Homo sapiens: one gene and its partner. The protein of the gene in region 1 binds, or shares a complex with, the protein of each later gene. Each region holds a gene or a part of one and is shown in the gene's direction. Other genes may lie near its edges.

Evidence for each region.
Region 2: the proteins of WDFY3 (region 1) and GABARAP are in contact, whole or in part, in a crystal structure (PDB 3WIM), measured with the Homo sapiens proteins. Residues at the interface, in NP_055806.2 of Homo sapiens: Glu3342, Lys3343, Asp3344, Gly3345, Phe3346, Ile3347, Phe3348, Val3349, Asn3350, Tyr3351, Ser3352; in NP_009209.1 of Homo sapiens: Glu17 (codon at 4,546), Ile21 (codon at 4,558), Lys24 (codon at 4,567), Tyr25 (codon at 4,570), Arg28 (codon at 4,579), Pro30 (codon at 4,585), Lys46 (codon at 5,194), Lys48 (codon at 5,200), Tyr49 (codon at 5,203), Leu50 (codon at 5,206), Val51 (codon at 5,209), Pro52 (codon at 5,212), Asp54 (codon at 5,218), Leu55 (codon at 5,221), Leu63 (codon at 5,385), Lys66 (codon at 5,394), Arg67 (codon at 5,397), Phe104 (codon at 5,930).

What each region holds. Positions count from the first base shown.
Region 1 is NC_000004.12:84,669,691-84,677,065, reverse strand, and holds part of WDFY3 (WD repeat and FYVE domain-containing protein 3), read left to right. Parts: intron 1-4,074; coding exon 4,075-4,198; 3' UTR 4,199-7,375. UniProt on the Homo sapiens protein: Required for selective macroautophagy (aggrephagy). Acts as an adapter protein by linking specific proteins destined for degradation to the core autophagic machinery members, such as the ATG5-ATG12-ATG16L E3-like ligase, SQSTM1 and LC3.
Region 2 is NC_000017.11:7,239,137-7,246,827, reverse strand, and holds GABARAP (gamma-aminobutyric acid receptor-associated protein), read left to right. Parts: upstream 1-4,378; 5' UTR 4,379-4,497; coding exon 4,498-4,587; intron 4,588-5,148; coding exon 5,149-5,227; intron 5,228-5,367; coding exon 5,368-5,486; intron 5,487-5,908; coding exon 5,909-5,974; 3' UTR 5,975-6,820; downstream 6,821-7,691. Other genes in the region: CTDNEP1 (CTD nuclear envelope phosphatase 1), read left to right, coding at 1-37, 458-574, 691-802, 2,193-2,277, 2,583-2,643; PHF23 (PHD finger protein 23), read left to right, coding at 7,197-7,242. UniProt on the Homo sapiens protein: Ubiquitin-like modifier that plays a role in intracellular transport of GABA(A) receptors and its interaction with the cytoskeleton.

The sequences.
Region 1 (7,375 bases):
CTTTTTCTGTTCTTCTTTATTACTACAATTAGGAAATTTTTCTGTCATACAAGTCACAAACACCTTGTCATCCATGACACAGAATGCACATATGCTAATATTTCATCGTATTTAATTTAGAGACCTGTATGTGAAATGATTCTATAAACACTATAGATACATTGTAAGTATCCTCTTTGCACCTTTCACCAATCACACCCATTCTCCATGTTTTTATGCTTTCAGGAACATGTGTTGCCTCTGTAAACATTACATCATACTATTTTGGTGTTCTCAGCTTTACTTTTCAGCTTTACGTACTATACTGTTTTTGCCCTTCTGTAACTTTCTTACTCAACATTGTTTTTGAAATCCATTTATATAGATATCTTATTGTAATATATTCATTTTAACTACTGTCGGTTATTTTAATTATATGAATTTATCATCATTATTTCCCTTTTGATGCCCTCTCAGGGTTTTTTTTTTTCTATTTTTATCAGTACTATAAATAATGCTACAATGCACATCCCTATAAATGCCCTTCTAATACACAAGCTAGAATTCCTCTAGAGATGGAATGAAATTGATAGAACACAGACTTATTCTTGATCTTAATTAGATATTGCCAAATTACTCTTCAAAACAGTAGTGCTAGTTAATACTACCTCCACTACCTCCAACAGGCCATGAAGGTTCTCCAAATTCTTAGTCATGCTTGGTACTGCCAGACTTTTTCCACTTTTGCCAATCTGATAGCTAAAAAATAGTGCTTTGTTGTTTTAACTTGCAATGCTAGTGAGACAACATCTTTTCATGTTTGTTGGCTATTTGGGTTTCCTTTTGGGTACTTTGCCCTTTTTTTTTCCTTGAGGAGTTCTTTTATATATTCTGTGCTGTACACCTTTGTTTTTTATATATCTTGCAGATACGTTCTGCCAGTCTGTGGCTTGTGTTTCAACTTTGTATATGTTTTTTCTGTCATCTACAAGTTTTTAAACTGGTTGTAGTCACATGTATTACTCTATGATTTTTGCTTTTTTGTGCCTTAAGAATTCTTTCTCTGTCCTAGGATCACAAAGATAATCTTGTTTATTTTCTTTTAAAGGTTTCAAAGTTTTATTTTTCACATTTAGGTCTTTAATTCATTTGTAATTTATTTTGGGGTATAACATGAGGCGAGGATCTATTTTTCCCCCATATGAAAGGTCAGTGGTCCCATGGCTATAGATTTGGTTGATATCTCTGTCCTACACCTGGGTCCCAGATACACATCCACAGTCGTTACTTTTTCTGCCAGACAACAGAAAGGATTCCATGGACAGTACACTTTAAGGCTTATATTGCCTTACTCCAGAGATGCTTTCATAGAAAGCATATTATTCTCAACTTGTGTAATTATGAGTCCATTCCTGAGGTTTTATAGGCAGCATTGGCTTACTGGTATGGGCATAGTCTTTGGGTTTACACTGACCAAATGCTCACTGTGCTACTTTCTGTTGCCATAATGCCAGCAAGTTACCGAGCCTCTCTGAGCTTTGGTTTCTTTATCTGTAAATGTGGGTAAGAAGACCAGTCCTCTTAGAGCTATTGAGAGAATTAAATGAGATCACATATATGAGTGTTGTAAAGCACCAAGTTCAGAGTCTGGCAAAACAGGTGTTCCATCATTTGATTCCTTAAACCTTTTCTGCTGGGCAGTCTGGTTCAAGATGAGGGACCCAAAATGTTGCAGCCAGCCATTTCCTGTGGGAATTTCTGTGAGGCTGGCAGAGGATTCTGTCTAGTGGCTCTGTGCTTTGAAAGGCCTGCTCTATAAAACCTATAATGGGACCGGGCACAGTGGCTCATGCCTGTAATGCCAGCACTTTGGGAGGCTGAGGTGGGCTGATCACCTGAGGTCAGGAGTTCGAGACCAGCCTGGCCAACATGGCAAAACCCTGTCTGTACTAAAAATACAAAAATTAGCCAGGTGTGGTGGTGAGCTACTCAGGAGGTTGAGGCGAGAGAATCACTTGAACCCAGCAGACAGAGGTTGCAGTGACCCGAGATCACGCCACTGCACTCCATCCAGCCTGAGCAACAGAGCAAGACTCCATCTCAAAAAAATAGATAATAAATTTAAAAACCCATAATGGGTTTTATAGAGCAGGCCTTTCAAAGCACAGAGCCGCTAGACATATATATATATATCTTTTATTTTTATTTTTATTTTTTTTGAGACGGAGTCTCACTCTGTCACCCAGGCTGGAGTGCAGTGGCGTGATCTCGGCTCACTGCAGCCTCCGCCTCCTGGGTTCAAGCGATTCTTCTACCTCAGCTTCCTGAGTAGCTGGGACTACAGGCGTGCACCACCACGCCTGGCTAATTTTTGTATTCTTAGTAGAGACGGGGTTTCACCATATTGGCCAGGCTCGTCTCGAACTCCTGACCTTGTGGTCTGCCCACCTTGGCCTCCCAAAGTGCTGGGATTACAGTCATGAGCCTCCGCACCCAGCCTATATATATATATTTCTTGAGATGGGGTCTTCCTCTATCACCCAGGCTGGAGTACAGTGGCACGATCACAGCTCAGTGCAGCTTTGATCTCCCAGGCTCAAGCAGTCCTCCCACCTCAGCCTTCCAAGTAGCTGAGACTATAGGCAAGAGCCACCACACCTGGCTAATTTTTGTATTTTTTGTAGAGATAGAGTCTCACTATGTTCCCCAGGCTGGTCTCACAGCCGCGGGCTCAAGCAGTACCCCCGCCTCAGCCTCCTAAAGTGCTGGGATTACAGTTTTCAGCCTCCACACCCATCATATTAATCTAGTGATTTGTACTAGCACTCCCGTATGTATGCTGGCACACATCTGTTCTTTGTAGTGTTTAATTTTCAAAATATTGTTTAAATATAGGTAATTCTTTAAATTATCCATTGCTATTAAATGTTGGATGGAAGCTTTATTGGAAACTGACCAAACAGTGATAAGTTCTGATGAAGCAGGCACAGAAGGAAGTGCTTTCCAGAACACACAGCCTGTGGTCTCTATGGCTGAGAGCTGTTGACACTCTTGAGGGATCTGAGAGGTCCAGTGACAGTCCTTTAAACCCATAAGGTTATAGTACTTAATTTACTCTCTGGACATTTTTACTGGTAGATTAATGGACTAAACATAAATCTCCATTTCAAGGCCAGGCACAGTGGCTCACGTCTGTAGTCTCAGCACTTTGGGAGGTCAAGGCAGGAAGATCACTTGAGGCCAGGAGTTTGAGGACAGCCTGGACAATGTAATGAGACCCCATCCCTACCAAAAAAAAATTTTTTTTTTCATTTCCATTTCAATCTTCTGAAAATCCAAGCCTAAAGTGATTTAATACCACATCCTGAGTCACACCTGGCTTTATTCCAGGAATAGGAACTCTGAATACTTCTTAAAGAATTTGAACATCTCTTAAGAATAGTCTCCTTCAAACAGTTCTAGCAAGATAAATAGGAAATGAGGGTGTTGGGACTGGAAAAGGAAAGCCAGTCTAACTGTTTAAGAAATGATTAAAGAGTGGATCAATCAAAATGTTTAAAAGCACAATGGAACTTGATAGTGATCAAACTCATATTTCTTTTGGAAATTAGAAGACTCACTAATGAGTCATTAGTAATTCTCTTGAAAATAGATACTCATTAGTGAGTCTTCTAATTTCCGCTAGTGAGTTTTTCTGATTTCCAAGAGAAATATGTCAAGCTCCAGGTAAAGACATTGACATACCTCCCAAGCTTATAGGCCATGAGAATTAGTCTACACAGGTAGAATGGCCTTACATCACTGTTCAGACACCTTGGCCTCATTGTATAGGAAAATCTTAACTCTGTTTTTTTGTTTTCGTTTTTTTAATTCTTGTCAGTCAAAGAAATAGCTTCCCTGGTTTAATACTGCTTTTCTTCATAGACTGAAACAAATAATACAGCTTTCCTTTTAGTCCTTGTTCAGCCACACAACACAAACCAGTATGGCCTTTGGCATTTTACTGCAAGCTTTCCATTCGATTATTAATGTTTCCGGTGCCCATGATCAAGCATGGAGAAGACCTATAATTAATTGACTTTTCCTTTCCTTTAGGTGCAGTCGCTTTCAATCTGAAATCAAACGCTTGAAAATCTCATCCCCGGTGCGTGTTTGTCAGAACTGTTATTATAACTTACAGCATGAGAGAGGTTCAGAAGATGGGCCTCGAAATTGTTGAAGATTCAACAAGCTGAGTGGAGACCATGGTCTGTAGACCCCTTCCCGATTCTCCTGTCCCAGCTTGGAAGGCATTGAAAACAGTCTCCGTTTACACATCTCTTCATACCACGTGTTTGAAGTGTTAAAATTCAAAGGGATCATTGAATAAAACGGGTGTAGAGTACAGGAATGGGGCAGACGCGATTCAGGTGAACAGCACAAGAAGAATATGAGGTGGTTCCTAGGAGCAACACTTTCGACCTCCAGTTCTCCCTGATGACAGTAGCTGTCTCCAAGAGAAAAATCCTCACTTATTAACTCTCTTTTCTTGCATCTCATTTTTATAGAGCTACTCATCCTTATTTGGAAAAACCAACAACAAAAAAGGCTTTTAGAAAATGGTTGTAAATCTGACTTCTTTGCAAGTAACTATGTATATTGTAAATAGATATAAAAGGCCTTTTTTCTAAATAAGGACTTAACTGCCTGTAACATGAAACTTCAAACTAAACCACTAACTCAATGAACTACTTATGGTTTGTCTGACATCCCTCACTTACCAATTAATTATAAATATGTTTTTTTAAATCCCCAAAGACATTATCTGTGGTCTTTTTTTCCTTTCAAGCTCAGCCTGTGTGCCTGATGTCATTTCTTTCAAGTTGCCCACAGTATCTCCACTTAAACTAGGCTAGTAACCAAAATAATGTGGACCTTCTTTAGGAAACAGTGTGGGAGAATAGGAGTCCAGCCGTAAGATAAACTGGAAATATTTGGGCGTCTTGTACCTGGCTACGCACCACCTCAGTGTTGTTCCTACATAAACAGGGCCCCTTTTAAACTTGTATGTGGACTGCTGTTTGGTCAAAGAATACCTTCTTAGCATTGCAGAAAGGTGGTCAGATGACCAGTGTAGTGCAGGAAACAGCCCTGTCTCAACTAATGGAAATATATTTGCATGTAACCCAAAATTAGCTTATCTTGCATAGAACATAATAAGTATGTGTCTTTGGTGACACTAATGTTCTACTATAGCTTATTTTCAAACAAGGGGTAAAAAAAGGAAAGAAAGAAGTGTACAGAATTAACATATAAACTTTGTTGTAAAACTGAATCATGTCAGAACTGCTTAAAATTAACCTTTACCATTTAATGTCATCTACCTGAAAACAGTGAGATTTATACTGTATCAATGTCTATTTTTTTGTTTTTGCTATGAATATAATTACAGTATTTTAATATTTAGTTATTTAATTTGTTCTACTAGTTGGATACAGAACACACAAATCCAGGGGGATTAAAGCTGGAAGGGGCTAAGAGATTAGTTTACAGAGAAAAGGCTTGGTGGTGGGATTTTTTTAAATGTGTGTTATGTACATATATATATATATATAATATATATTAAAAATGAAACAATTAATCTAGATTTTAACATTTTCAGAAACTTAGTGATAACATTATGAACAATTCTAAAAGCCCTGTGATTTGAAAAATATAGAATCATTAATGGCCCAAGATAGGCCTTCACACCTTCACAGGTGCGAAAGGAAAGGCCTTCACACCCTCACAGAGGCATCATGCAAAGGACAGCGGCTTTGGCTTTTCCAATTTTCCATCTTTAGGCCCTGGTGAGAGGCACACTTATGCACTAAAATGCACATATATGCACATGCATTCAAAAATAGGCATTTGGTACAATGGTGATCTTGTACCTGATGGGCTGAAACCAGCTTAAGAACAAATTTGTTCTTCCTGATATGATAACTAGGTCTCCAAGAGAAAATAGAAAGGCTGCTTTAGTGCCTTACGCTTACTAAATTTAAATCTTTATTTACCTGGGTTTGAGCCTACAGTCTATTTATGATTACATATCAAAATTGATTAAAACACTTCCATTTCTAAAAGTTCAAATATACTTGTTAATAAAAGGATTATCGGCATTAATACTTTAATTTAAAGAAAAGTTGTGTTCTGTTTTCCTTTCTGTGTCTTACTCCCCCCACACTCTCCCTCCCCCATCACCATCTTCAATTCTAATAAATAATGCTGATGTTCAACAGTTGCAGAAATTGTGCTATTATGTAACTGTGGGCCTTGCCCCTGTCTGGCCCTCTAGATGATTTGTAGCAGTGTTATTCTACACTTTTTAAAAGAAGCGTCCTCCTTTTGTCCATGAATCATGTTTACCCCATACCCAGTGGCAGAGGTGTTCTTTAAAGACTTGAATATATGAATGTGTGTGTGTAGTTACTTAAAGGTTATTCCTCTTTGTAATAGGAAACTATATGGGATGAACACTTTTAAACTTTCCGACACAACTTCCATTACTAACTTTCTAACAGAACTTCCATAACTAGAAGGTGGAAACCAAAACCCTCATGGTAGTATTTCCTCTGGCAGCTGGTGCTGTGGGCAACTGTTTTGTTCAATCGGGTTTCTTTTCTTTTTGCCTCTAATGCAGAAATCAACAGAATCACTCACACATACAAGTACACTCACATACATAAACTAATTATTTCTCTGGATATCTTTCTGTGTTCCATGTAAATTTATTTACCAACATCTATTGTCAACATGTACATCTACCTTAGTATGGTCTGCATTCTTTTTCTGAGAGTACCTCATAGGGCTCCTGCCTGATCTTTGTAGTTTGTTCATTCATCCATCCACCTGTTCATTTGTTCATCCATGTATTCTAACATTTCTATGTAGTGTGCAACTCTAATGTCATGCTTTTGAAGAAGAGAATAGCTGCCCATAGCAGCCATCCGTCTGGATAATAGCAAAACACTCTAGATAAGTTATTTTGCACTTTCTTATGTATAAAGTTGGTAGAAACTTATTTTTGCTTTGTATCATTTAAATACATTTTGTTTTGGTAAATGAACTGTGTATAAAATATTTATGCCGTTAAAACTGTTTTTAGAAAGTATTTTTAATTTCAGCAAGTTTGGTTACTTGTTGCATGACTCTTAACACAGCTGACTTTTTGTGTCAGTGCAATGTATATTTTTTGTCCTGTTATTAACTTGTAAGCCCTAGTAATGGCCAATTATTTGTACAGCAACAGAAGTAAATTGAAGATACTGGCTAAGACTGGATTGATTGTGGACTTTTATACTATATTGCAGAAACCAATATCTGTTTCTTGGTGGTTATGTAAAAGACCTGAAGAATTACTATCTAGTGTGCAGTC
Region 2 (7,691 bases), on another chromosome or scaffold:
ACATAAGAGGCCCCATGTGGATTTCTTCCTGGAAGTGGTGAGTTTTGGAGAGCTAAAGGGAGCTCTGTAATGAAGGAATGGTTTTAGGGCTCTGGGAATTGGGAGGATTTGGAGGAAGGGGTGAGGAGAAACGGGTTAGAGCAGTTTTCTAGAGGGGAGGCTGTGTAATGGTAGGGGAGTGGCTTTCAGTACTTGGGGTTCATTTGTTGTGCTGATGTAATTCTTTTCCGCTGGCATCTTTCTCTTTTGTTCTTGCATTTCTGAATCATAAGAGTGTAGGATGCCTAACACTGAGTTTGGAGGTTTGGGCTGGGGGTTCAGAATTTCGTGTCCTCAGAGACATTTGATGTTGATGGAAGGCCTGAAGGACTATGCCATTGCCTTTCTGAAAGATAACTGTATGTCTAAAGGAATCATCACCTTGTATGGCATCGCCCTCTCCCCCAATCTATTTCAGGTGAGCCAGTGGTACGAGCTGGTGGTGTTTACAGCAAGCATGGAGATCTATGGCTCTGCTGTGGCAGATAAACTGGACAATAGCAGAAGCATTCTTAAGAGGAGATATTACAGACAGGTAAGCTAGAATCCCAGTCTAAGAGTGTGGCTTGGGAGGGAGGCCACCAGGGAGGGATCTGGGTTTGAGGAGAGTATCCTGGAGAGAGGCCTGCTACATGATCCCCTGCCTTCCAGCACTGCACTTTGGAGTTGGGCAGCTACATCAAGGACCTCTCTGTGGTCCACAGTGACCTCTCCAGCATTGTGATCCTGGATAACTCCCCAGGGGCTTACAGGAGCCATCCAGGTACGGGGGAAGGTGGTGAGTCTGGCAGGACCAGAACATGGTTCTGAGAAGGTATTTTTGCAGGAGACCTGGGCTTTGGTCCTTGAGAGCTGGGATTCCCTAGATTATCCCTAGTTTGCTGTAAGTCGAAATGCAAGTTATTTTTGTGTTTCAAATGAGATACCATATATGTCCATTTCATAAGTCGGATTTCTTATATCATTTTTTTCATTTTTAAAATTTATTTTTGGCTGGGCACGGTGGATTATGCTTGTAATCCCAGCACTTTGGGAGGCCGAGGCAGGCGGATCACGAGGTCAGAAGTTCGAGACCAGCCTAACAAACATGGTGAAACCCCATCTCTACTAAAAATAGAAAAAACTAGCCAGGCGTGGTGGCGCACGCCTGTAATCCCAGCAACTCGGGAGGCTGAGGCAGGAGAATCGCTTGAACCCGGGAGGCGGAGGTTGCAGTGAGCCGAGATTGCACCATTGCACTCCAGCCTGGGTGACAGAGCGAGACGCCGTCTCAAAAAAAATAAATAATAAATAAATAAAAATAAAATTTATTTTTATTTATTTTTTGAGATAGGGTCTCACTCTGTTCCCAGGCTGGAGTGCAGTGTCATGATCATAGCTCACTGCAGCCTCGATCTCCCAGGCTCAAGTGATCCTTCTGCCTCAGCCTCTCAGTAGTTGGGACTACAGGCGTGCACCACCATGCCCAGCTAATTTTTTTATTTTTTATTTTTTTTTGAGACAGAGTCTCGCACTGTCACCCAGGCTGGAATGCAGTGGCGTGATCTCGGCTTACTGCAACCTCCGACTTCCAGGTTCAAGCAATTCTCCTGCCTCAGCCTCCCAAGTAGCTGGGATCACAGGCACCTGCCACCACGCGCAGCTAATTTTTTGTATTTTTAGTAGCGACGGAGTTTCACCACGTTGGCCAGGCTGGTCTTGAATTCCTGACCTCGTGATTCGTCCGCTTTGGCCTCCCAAAGTGCTGGGATTACAGGCGTAAGCCACTGCCCTTGGCCAATTTTTTGATTTTTAGTAGAGAAGGGATCTCATTATGTTGCCCAGGCTGGACTCAAACTCCTGAGCTCAAGTGATCCTCCCACCTCGGCCTCTCAAAGTGTTGGGATAACAGGTGTGAGCCACTGCGCCTGGCCAAGTGTGTTTCAAGTGAGGCACAATGGCAGTAAGCTTGACTAGAAGCATCAATAGGTATGAGATCTGGTGATTAAAACTTAGTTTCGGAGCATAAACCAGGAAAGTTTTACTTAGGTTGTTGACTTCCGGTAGTGGGAGGCATATATTTTTAACAATAATTCCTCCTTCCCTCCAAGAAGAGAAAAACACCGTCTCTCTTGAATTCTGTTTCTTCTCATCTGCATTTTCACCCACCCTAGACAATGCCATCCCCATCAAATCCTGGTTCAGTGACCCCAGCGACACAGCCCTTCTCAACCTGCTCCCAATGCTGGATGCCCTCAGGTAAGGGAAGTGGGCTCTGGACACTTGGATATCTCAAGAAAGGAGGAGGTGGGGGATCCTCAGAGGGAATAAAAAAGGTTTGTCCTGTTTTAACTCTGTTCCCTTAAGAATTTAACATTTGGACCCAGGTCGTCTTACTTCAAAGCTCATCACTTTAGCTAGTAGGCTGTGGGCAAATTGAACCTATCTAATCATGAATATGGTGATAATTTAGGTCCCACATCTCCAGTGATGCTGCCTTACAAGAGTGTTGTGAGGGTATGAACTATAAGGTACTCTACCAATGCAAGTTATTGTCACCCCAGGTTCACCGCTGATGTTCGTTCCGTGCTGAGCCGAAACCTTCACCAACATCGGCTCTGGTGACAGCTGCTCCCCCTCCACCTGAGTTGGGGTGGGGGGGAAAGGGAGGGCGAGCCCTTGGGATGCCGTCTGATGCCCTGTCCAATGTGAGGACTGCCTGGGCAGGGTCTGCCCCTCCCACCCCTCTCTGCCCTGGGAGCCCTACACTCCACTTGGAGTCTGGATGGACACATGGGCCAGGGGCTCTGAAGCAGCCTCACTCTTAACTTCGTGTTCACACTCCATGGAAACCCCAGACTGGGACACAGGCGGAAGCCTAGGAGAGCCGAATCAGTGTTTGTGAAGAGGCAGGACTGGCCAGAGTGACAGACATACGGTGATCCAGGAGGCTCAAAGAGAAGCCAAGTCAGCTTTGTTGTGATTTGATTTTTTTTAAAAAACTCTTGTACAAAACTGATCTAATTCTTCACTCCTGCTCCAAGGGCTGGGCTGTGGGTGGGATACTGGGATTTTGGGCCACTGGATTTTCCCTAAATTTGTCCCCCCTTTACTCTCCCTCTATTTTTCTCTCCTTAGACTCCCTCAGACCTGTAACCAGCTTTGTGTCTTTTTTCCTTTTCTCTCTTTTAAACCATGCATTATAACTTTGAAACCAAAGCGGCCTTAGGTCCTTCTCTGGGGTTTTGGGAAGTGAAGAGAGGGGACTTTGTTCACATGCACCCTGTCCCACAGGCAGAGGGGGAAGAGACTGCTGTTGGACTCAAGGGGCAGGGGGAAAGGTGGCGTTGAGTATAGGGATAGAATAATGCGGACACCAGATGCCTGGGATACAATAATGCTGACACCAGATGCTTTGGCGGGAAGGGCCGAGTGACAGGATGGGCGCGCTGGTGGGGAGTGGAAGGACACCTTCGGAGAAGCAGGCTATGGAAGCACGAAAGGAGAAACCGGCTATGGAAGCACGAAAGGAGAAACCTGGACGGCCAAAGGGCGTAGAGCTGGAGAAACCGGGCTTCGTCCGGGGCACTGACGTGGACAGGTTAAGCGGGCGCTGCCCCCAGGTGGCTGGCGCCCCGACCTCCGCTGTCCGGGAAGGCGTCGGTCCCCCTCCCAGCTGTCGCCCAGCCGGCCCCGCCTCCCCGGCGCCCTCCCAAGCCGGCCCTACTTCGCGCACCCGCCACGTGACGCTCCGCCCTCTTTGAGATCACATGATTTAACTCAAGTCCCGCAGTGTTCCTCCGCGCTGGCGTAGTCCCTACCTTTCCAACCTCCTCTCCAGTCCCTATTGGTCTACTCATTTTGGCACTTAAGCGTTCTGTAGATCTCTCCAAACATCTGTTTTCTTTTTGACTTCTTATTTCTGGAGATCATCTCCGCCACTTGGGTACTACTTTGTTTTGGTGTCAACGGCCGCCTTCAGCGTAGCAACACGGTTCGTGAATAGCTAACCTTGTAATTGTCCCTGCTGTTCCTCTACGTTGTTAACGAAAGGAACTTGGAGAACCAAGTCTCGTATGATGATTACCATCTTTTACTCCTCTTCAGCCCCAGCTTCCTTGAGGGGACGGTTGGGGAATAGGTTTAGAGTAATTTTCGATGAGCAAAAGCCAACCGTCTTTGCTACGTCGCCTGCGTAGCCCACAAATTGATTCCAAAGCGATTACGCTAATGGCGTGAGGGGGCCGGTCAGTTGGTGGTGCTACGCTAGCAGCGTTAGCGCCGCTGAGGTAGTGGCGTATCTTAGCGGGGGGGGCAGTCCCCGATAGTCGGGGGCGGGGTTGGTGAATAGGGAAGTGGCGCAAATTCGTGGATCGCTCCGCTGAATCCGCCCGCGCGTCGCCGCCGTCGTCGCCGCCCCCCGTCCCGGCCCCCCTGGGTTCCCTCAGCCCAGCCCTGTCCAGCCCGGTTCCCGGGAGGATGAAGTTCGTGTACAAAGAAGAGCATCCGTTCGAGAAGCGCCGCTCTGAGGGCGAGAAGATCCGAAAGAAATACCCGGACCGGGTGCCGGTGAGGACAGTAGCCAGGGCCGAGGGCGCGGGACGCTTACGCTGACGCCACAGCCTGGCCTTGGATCGGGACAGGCAGCGCAGGGATCAGGCTGCTGGCTGTGGTGGGGTTGGCAGCGAGCCTGAAACTGCTGTCCTTGGGACCCAGGATGAAAGGAGTGGGGTAGTGGTGGATGTGGGGTTGAGAGGGATGTGGACAGGAGAGAGAAACCTTAGCATTTGAGGCCTTAGAGAGTTTGACAGCCTGAGCTTCAAATGGTCATCCCCCCAGCTAGCTAAGGTTGCGAGATTGAATCACTAGTCGACCCAAACAAGTCACCTCCGTCTGATTAAGATAGTTGTTTATGGTGACGCCCTATTGGGGGATGGATCCTGGATATTTAAATGAGCTCCAGTCAGTGAGGTCAGGATCTCTGGGACTCAGTGCTGCACCGCGTGTACAAAGACAAAGAGATGAATCTGGGGTAGATTTAGGTGCTAGGAATATTGTTTCTTGAGTTCTTGACAGGTGCAGCTTCGGGGCTGCATTCCTTCTGTCTCCTAATTTTCATCTCTTTATCAGGTGATAGTAGAAAAGGCTCCCAAAGCTCGGATAGGAGACCTGGACAAAAAGAAATACCTGGTGCCTTCTGATCTCACAGGTGGGAACCTGATCCAAGACTCAGGCTTGCTTCCTGTGGGTGGGAGTGCAGTCTCTGCGGGAGGAGGCTCCACCTAGCAGCTGTTCTTTTGAGGGCATTTTTGACCTCTGTGACTTTCTTGCATCTTGTATCTTTTGCAGTTGGTCAGTTCTACTTCTTGATCCGGAAGCGAATTCATCTCCGAGCTGAGGATGCCTTGTTTTTCTTTGTCAACAATGTCATTCCACCCACCAGTGCCACAATGGGTCAGCTGTACCAGGTATGGTGACTGGGAAGTGGTGGAGGCTTTGGAGAGGAATCTTGGAAGAGCGTGAGGGGAAGAAAGTGTTGTTACATCAGTAGTTTTGGACTAGCTTCCTGGCTTGCCTTAAAGTTTCATAATAGCCGTGGGTTGGGGGTTTGGACAGAACAGTAGGAGTAGAGAGAAGGAAAGAGAACAGTGAGCTAGAGAAACTATCTGTTCGGGACTCTTCCCAGTCCCCCTCCCCATTCCAAAGCAGCAGAAAACAGTTTGAGGCCTTTTTGCCCAGGACTGCAGAGATTATACTGCTCGTGTGGTAGGCCTTGGAGTCAGTGAAGGAGTCAGGCAATGGTTTGTGGTTCTAGAAGAACGTGTCTGGGTCGTGGTTGGTTTAAGTTACTGGAGCCCAGTTGCTGAACAGTTTTCTGCTTTCATCCCAGGAACACCATGAAGAAGACTTCTTTCTCTACATTGCCTACAGTGACGAAAGTGTCTACGGTCTGTGAAGCTGCTGCCCCTGAGCTGGAGGGGGGTCTCATTCTACAAAGAGAGAGGTGGCCCCCCTTTCTTGACCTCCTCCTCCTTCAAGCTCAAACACCACCTCCCTTATTCAGGACCGGCACTTCTTAATGTTTGTGGCTTTCTCTCCAGCCTCTCTTAGGAGGGGTAATGGTGGAGTTGGCATCTTGTAACTCTCCTTTCTCCTTTCTTCCCCTTTCTCTGCCCGCCTTTCCCATCCTGCTGTAGACTTCTTGATTGTCAGTCTGTGTCACATCCAGTGATTGTTTTGGTTTCTGTTCCCTTTCTGACTGCCCAAGGGGCTCAGAACCCCAGCAATCCCTTCCTTTCACTACCTTCTTTTTTGGGGGTAGTTGGAAGGGACTGAAATTGTGGGGGGAAGGTAGGAGGCACATCAATAAAGAGGAAACCACCAAGCTGAACTGAATTTTGCCTTGTGTTGCTCCCCTCGTCCCGCTGATTTTAAGTCTTTCCAAGGTGTCAGTGGGTTTCAGTGGTGGGGAAAGAAGAGTACTGGGTACAAGCTGGAGGGATAGAAGTATATTTTGGTTTATTCTGTTCATGTTGGGCTTTTCCCTGTCTGCAAAAAGAGGGTGCTTTTGTTGTGATGGAATGGAATACTGAGGATTATTTCTTGAAACTTTAGTTTTATAACACGCATGTGAAACTAAATGTTAAAAATGCTCATGTAAAAAAAAATTTTTTTTTACTGTGGGTTCCTGTGGAGAAAGTTCCGAAGTACCTGCTTTAGGTGAACATCCACATTTGCTAGAACATTCTAACTAAGATATTTTCATGTGTGCAAGCTAGTAAAACGGCTGTTCTCAGTTGCATGTCACTTGGCTAGACTTTTGCCGGTGTGTGGGATCCGGCAGAGTGGAATCAGGGAGGGAGAAGACTGGGAGCGGGAGCCATTATCGCCAGGAATACTTCAACTCCCAGCAATCATTTCTCCGGCAGGCCGGAAGTGGGGCGGTCCTCCTGGGGAGAAAGAAGCTGCAGAACGAGGCAGTATGGTGGCCGAGAGTTCTAATCCCTTCTTCCTCTTCTTTCTTGGTCCCGCCCAGCCTACATCTCCCAGGGGCCTGCGCGCGCACTTCCGCTCTCCCCTCCGGCTCCTGGTCTCCCCGCCGCTCCCCGGGGGAGGGGAGCGGCTTGGTGCGCCTGCGCCAGCCTGTGGCTTTCTGGGAATCAAAGTTCCGGAGGTTCATGCGGTCCCTTTTCCGCTGTTCCCGGACGGACTACAAAACCCTTGGTGCACTGCGCCTCGGCGCCGGCGGGGGGAGGAGGGAGAGAAGAGGAGGGAGGGAGGAGAGAGGAGGTGGAGGAGGAGGAGGAGGGAGCAGGCGGCCGGCGGCGCGGGGGGAGGGGGCCCGGTCCGGGAGTGCGGGAGGCAGTGGTAGAGGGAGGTGGCGGCAGCGGCTAGCGGACTCGAGTCTCAACCGGGCTGAGGCGGACACTTCTGTGGAGCGAAGCAGTGGGAGCATCGAGCACTAGAGGCGGCACCGGGATCCCCGGCTCCGGGGAGGGGGGCGCCGGACCGGGAGGAGGGGAGGGGGCGATGCTGGAAGCCATGGCGGAGCCCAGTCCCGAAGGTGAGCTCTCGACCGGTGCAGAGCGCTGAGCCGGCGGGGGGCGGGCGAGGAATCAATTGGCAAACTTGGAGGTCGAGCCCCGGAGCCCAGCGGGGGAGTTCGGGGAGGG